2 separate regions of the Homo sapiens genome follow, and region 1 is linked to region 2. The links come from fine-mapping of genetic effects on gene expression. Tissue or cell type: whole blood. Region 2 holds a variant in brackets; the other region holds the start of a gene. All regions are shown on one strand. Distances are from middle to middle.

Region 1 (2,908 bases), 61 kb after region 2:
ATTAGAACACCTTGCCATGAGTGTGCCTAATAAACCCAATGCAACTATTGCTGGATTTTTTTTTTTTTTTGAGACGGAGTCTCGCTCTGTCGCCCAGGCCGGACTGCGGACTGCAGACTGCAGTGGCGCAATCTTGGCTCACTGCAAGCTCCGCTTCCCGGGTTCACGCCATTCTCCTGCCTCAGCCTCCCGAGTAGCTGGGACTACAGGCGCCCGCCACCGCGCCCGGCTAATTTTCTGTATTTTTAGTAGAGACGGGGTTTCACCGTGTTAGCCAGGATGGTCTCGATCTCCTGACCTCATGATCCACCCGCCTCGGCCTCCCAAAGTGCTGGGATTACAGGCGTGAGCCACCGCGCCTGGCCTATTGCTGGATTTTTAACATACAACTCCTTCAAATTATTTATTCAAATATTATTTTGGAATATTAAAAATATATTTTTAGAATAGTAATTCAAATGTTTAGTTTTTGTTTTTTTTTTTTCTATTTTGTTAACACGTTCTTGATGTGCTGAAAACTGAACATTCAGTGGTTCACTCGTTCAGTAAACAGTTTTTGGGCACCTGAACTTGGTTGTGCTAGGCACTGGGTAATCAAAGTTTAAGCCCCAAGTTCTTCCAATAGCAAATAGTACAGCTGCATGCCACTAGCTTCTTACACACAGGTGGGTGACATACATGCCAAATGAAAATAATTTTACCCTTTCCCTCTATAATTTCAAGTACACTTTTAATTTTTGATATTATAGCCCTATTTGCTTAAACACTCTTCCATCTCTTCTCCTCTCCTTGTCTCCTTTTTTTCTTTTCTTTTTTTTTTTTTTTTTTGAGACAAAGTCTCACTCTGTTGCCCAGGCTGGAGTGCAGTGTCACGATCTTGGCTCACTGCATCCTCCTCCTCTCAGGTTCAAGCAATTCTCCCACCTCAGCCTCCTGAGTAGCTGGGACTACAGGCGTGCGCTACCACACCAGGCTAATTTATGTATTTTTAGTAGAGATGGGGTTTCACCATGCTGGCCAGGCTGGTCTTGAACTCTTGACCTCAAGTGATCCGCCTGCTTCGACTAGGATTACAGGTGTGAGCCACTACACCCGGCCCCCTCGTTTTTTTAAATAAAATTATAACATTAGGTGGGAAAAAACACTTTAAAAGTAGTTCTGTCAACTATTTTGGGGGCTGTGGGCCAGTCATTTAATCCATCTGAACCTGTTTCCTCTGCTGTGAAAGGGTGATACCCTCCTTGCCCTGTCCATCTCAGTTGTTATGGGGATTATGGAAGAAGCTATATGTAACATTAACATCAGAAATTTAAATATCCAGTTAAAGTGTAAATGGATATTATAAAACAATCTTTAAAAGAAACAAAGACACTATATATATATATATGGCTTATGCATCACTAGCACTTTGGGTTTCCGAAACCCCAACATGAAGTTTCACGAAAGTTGCATTCCATGGGAGTTTGCTTCCATGATGGATTTTTTACTTTGTACTTAGCTCCTGAAAAAGAAACTTCCTGGGTTTTCTTTTTTCCTCCTACGGTTTTGCAGCGGCTTGGCTGCTTCCTGTCAAGAGCCACTCTGCCAAGGCCCCGTCTCTAGAGTCTCTCCCCCTCCCCTTTCTCTTTCTTTCCAACACTTGCTACATTGAGAGGCTGATCCTGTGCAGAAGCCCTCCCTGCCTCGGCAGCGCGGCGCAGTGAGCATGCTCGGCCTCCTGCGGGAAGAGGAAGCGGCGGCATAGGAGTCATGCCAAGCATAGCCCTCATGTCAGCGCTGCCGGCTTGCAGCGGGCTGTGAGAGGGGCCGGCGCCGCTTTGTCCTAGGAAACGGGCTGCGCGTTTCTCTTTTTCACTCTTTTCCATTTCCAGGAAGGACTTGTAAGGACTTCTGAAACGCTGTTTTCATACTCGATCGGGGATACAGTACATACACCGTCTACCAGTAAGCCCTTGAAGGGTTTCGTGTGAGCTCGATTTTTTTGTGCCTGATTTTTTTTTTTTTAACTTTTGCATACTTTGTTTTGATAGTCTGAGGCTGGGCCTCTGCCTTTGTGAAGTTGAAGAGCCAGGAGCTACTCAGCAACAATTGATTTTTGAAACTTAACTCTTTTGGGGCAAAAGCAAAGAGCTGGTTTTCTTTGCTAGCCCAATAAATGCTATTTATGAAGATGGACCTGTTGAACTATCAGTACTTGGACAAGATGAACAACAATATCGGCATTCTGTGCTACGAAGGTAGATGTCCCGTTGTAGAATTACTGCCCGTTGCTCGTCCCGGCCACTCCTCCTCAGTGTGCTGGGTGCCTGCCTTCTAAGCGCCCGCTGTCCTCCTCCGGGGTGTAGGGCACTTGAAAGGCCGGCGTTTCTTAGGTTCGGTTCGGCACCGAGTGTGTTCGGATCTCAGGCTGCGGGGGGCGGTGGAGGGGGCTGGACGGGGAGGCAGTGAAGTAGAAACCCTTCAAAGTTTGCTCGTTGCTTGCAACGTACTCGCGCCTCACATTTTTAACTCTTTAAAATGTATGTATTTTTGATTTCCGTTAATATTGTCTTTAGGGGAAGGACTTGTAGGACGCCGGTAAAAGTTGAGCCTCTTTGGGGGAGGGGCTGGTAAGGATTGCACCGTCTACTGTACCCTGCTGTGGGCCACGGCGCCCTGCAGCTCACGGAGGGGGAGCCAAAGTTACAGCGAGTTTTTGTGCTCGCGAGTGAGCGTCCCAAACAGCGGAGAATGTCCCTCTCCCGCGTGGGGCCGGAAGGGCACCGTGTCAGCGAGCACAGGCGGGCTCTTTGTCTCGCTGGCGCTTCCTGTGCAGCCCGGGGAGCGCTGACACTGGGGGGTGTTCCTCGCGCTCCGCTCCCTGTGGGAGCGATTACACAACACCCCGACCCCCAGCCTGCCCTGAAAA
Region 2 (2,908 bases):
TTTCAGTTCTAGCTAGTCAGGTCTGGCCACCTGTCCCAGGTGCTCATTCCTGCCCCTGTGCCTTTTCTCAGACTGTTGTTGACTCAGGATGACTGCACTGGGGATAAGACAGGGTCCTTGCACCTAGGAAGTATACAGAAACACAGTGCGATCCAGGAAGGTGAGGGAGGCCAGAGAGGAGAGTGACTGCCTGGGGCAGGGCAACCGGGGAAGGAAATTTTCCAAGTGGCTTTTTGAAACACACACGCATCCACAAACCACCCCCAAACAAAAAATAGATGTGCACAAGGCAAACACGTTAGCTGACATTGATCTCTTTTATGACACTGTACCCATTTTAGTTTTAAATAATATTTAGTCTTTGTTTATCCTCTTTTTGATTTTGCCTGTCATTATCCTATCTTATAAAATTTAGTTTCCGAACAAGAGCGTGACTCCTTGAAAGCAGAGATCTATCTTCTGTTTCTCCTTAACCTTTTCTGGGCACTTTGCTGAGCTTAGAATAATTGTGTAATAAACATTGGTTGATTTCATTAATAAGGTTGCAGCAGATGGCAGGTGCCTTGTGGATGAACCTTTAATACCCATTATCTTATCTACCTACTTTGAATGTAAGTTGCTTGGGGGTTTAGGATTTCATAGCATCTGTATAAACTTAAATGTCTAATATTCCGCTATGCTAGAATTCTGGGTCTACCTTATGTCATTTGATACTTTTATGCTTTGATATTTTGTTTCTGTGCATACTTTATATAACCTAAGGTATGTATTAATCTATTTAGGTCTAGAATTTTGAAAGCATTGTCCTTCAACTTAATGGGGTAAAATTAATTTAGAGAATTATGAGTCTAAATGCTGTATTATTGCAAAGTAGGATGCTTATCAGCAGTTACTACCCCAAATCACAAGATCTTTTTTTTTTTTTTTTTGAGACGGAGTCTCGCTCTGTCGCCCAGGCTGGAGTGCAGTGGCGCGATCTCAGCTCACTGCAAGCTCCGCCTCGCGGGTTCATGCCATTCTCCTGCCTCAGCCTCCCCAGTAGCTGGGACTACGGTGCCCGCCACCGCGCCTGGCTAATTTTTTGTGTTTTTAGTAGAGACGGGGTTTCACTGTGTTAGCCAGGATGGTCTCGACCAAATCACAAGACTTTAAACCCAGATCTTTCCTGAATAGGAAGCTGGCTTGGGTGAAGAGAATATTACCTAGTTCTTGGGAGTTCAGCAGACTTTTTTCTGTTAGTCAGTTCCAAGTTCTTGTTGGTTTTCTCCATTGTTGAACAAGTTCACAAATCCTTCCTCTTAGGAGATGGTCTTTTCTGTTTTTACAAAGAAGATCAGGAATGTGAGCACTGTTAGGTTTTCCCTCTTAGACCGCTGCTTTTACCCATCCTCTCTGAAAAAGAAGACATGTGCGTGTGTTAGGAGGTCGTTGCCTCCCTGCCACTCTTAGTCTTCCGTGGCCCTCCCCTCCTCTCTCTGCCTGCCAAGCTCAGTGAGCTCCGCCTCTGCGTTTTCCTGCCTCCCCGCGGCTCCGGTGCCAGTGCCCCTCGCTGCCCTCCGCGTGCTTGCCCACGGCTCTGGCCTTCC[C/T]GTTGTCCGCCCTGCGCTCAGCTTCCCGAGCTCTATCTACTCCGTTCCACGTGGTGCGGCCAGGATAACTTGCCCAGAACGCATGGATGACTAAGCCGCTTTTCTGCTTAGATGGAGTTTTCAGTGGCTCCTTAATGCGTGTCAAGCCGCGGTCCCATCGAAGCCCTCAGTCCTTTCACGATGTGGTCCCAATCTAAATTTCCAACCTTGTCGCTTACTTTCTGTCCCCATTTTACTCTTGTAGGCGATTTGGGCAGCGTGTTGTTAAACCGATTCTGCTTCTGTTCTTCCCTTCTGGGGGAGGAACTTTTATATTCGTTCTTCAAAGCCTCCGCTCAAGTTCTGTTTTCTTCACAAAGCCTTTCAGAATTCATCTGTTATTTCTGTAGGACTTTGTTTCTAGCACTGTTTTGACGCTTTGCACATTTTGCCCTAACCCAGTATTTTCCCCAGATGTTCCCTGAGATGCGTTTTGGGTTGAAAATGGCTCATGACGTCTACGAGGTTTCGCGTGTACAGGGCTTTCTGTCCCCACAACGGGAGATTAAAGGCACGGGGAGGAAAATACGCTGCTTAGCTTGGTTTACTCCAGGCTTCCTCAAACTTATTTACCATAGAAAAACGTTTTTTTCTTACAAAATATGAACACCCAGTGCAGAATGCTTTGGAAGAATGCTGCCTTAAACTAGATGTCTCGGTGGCCTGCCTCCCGTGCAGATTGAAAGCTCCTCGAAGGCAGCTACTGGGCTTTGTTTATTTTTCCCGCCTGGAGCTCCTTGTAGATATTTAACGTTTACTGAATGAAGTCATATTGCATGATCAGGGATCTATGTTTCTTTCTTTTCTTTTCTTTTTTTCTTTTTTTTTTTTTTTTTTTTTTGAGACGGAGTTTCCCTTTTGTTGCCCAGGCTGGAGTGCAATGGCTCGATCTCGGCTCACCGCAACCTCTGCCTCCCGGGTACAAGCGATCTTCCTGCCTGAGCCTCTTGAGTAGCTGGGATTACAAGCATGGGCCACCATACCCGGCTAATTTTTTTGTATTTGTAGTAGAGATGGGTTTTCTCCATGTTGTTCAGGCTGGTCTCAAACTCCCGACCTCAGGTTACCTGCCCGCCTCGGCCTCCCAAAGTGCTGGGATTACAGGCGTGAGCCACCACGCCCGACCTAATTTTTTGTAATTTTAATAGAGATGGGGTTTCACCATGTTCGCCAGGCTAGTCTTGAACTCCTGACCTCAAGTGATCTGCCCGCCTTGGCCTCCCAAAGTGCTGGGATTACAGGCGTGAGCTACCATGCCTCGTGGATCAGTGTTTCTTTGGAGG

Evidence for each region.
Region 1: it holds the start of VGLL4, and the variant in region 2 is fine-mapped to the expression of VGLL4 in whole blood (INTERVAL, PIP above 0.99). The same link has a PIP of 0.9 or more in platelets.

The regions. Positions count from the first base shown.
Region 1 is chr3:11,642,766-11,645,673 of GRCh38, reverse strand. VGLL4 (vestigial like family member 4) reads left to right here and starts at 1,759. Exons shown (of 5, transcript NM_001128219.3): 1 at 1,759-2,237. The coding sequence starts at 2,156. RefSeq lists enhancers at 1,536-1,615, 2,806-2,908.
Region 2 is chr3:11,703,942-11,706,849 of GRCh38, reverse strand. It overlaps a transcript of VGLL4 not described here. Among named protein-coding and RNA genes, the nearest start is that of VGLL4, 61 kb to the right of the region's middle. RefSeq lists a silencer at 1,361-1,655. The variant C/T (reference allele first, on the strand shown) is at 1,587.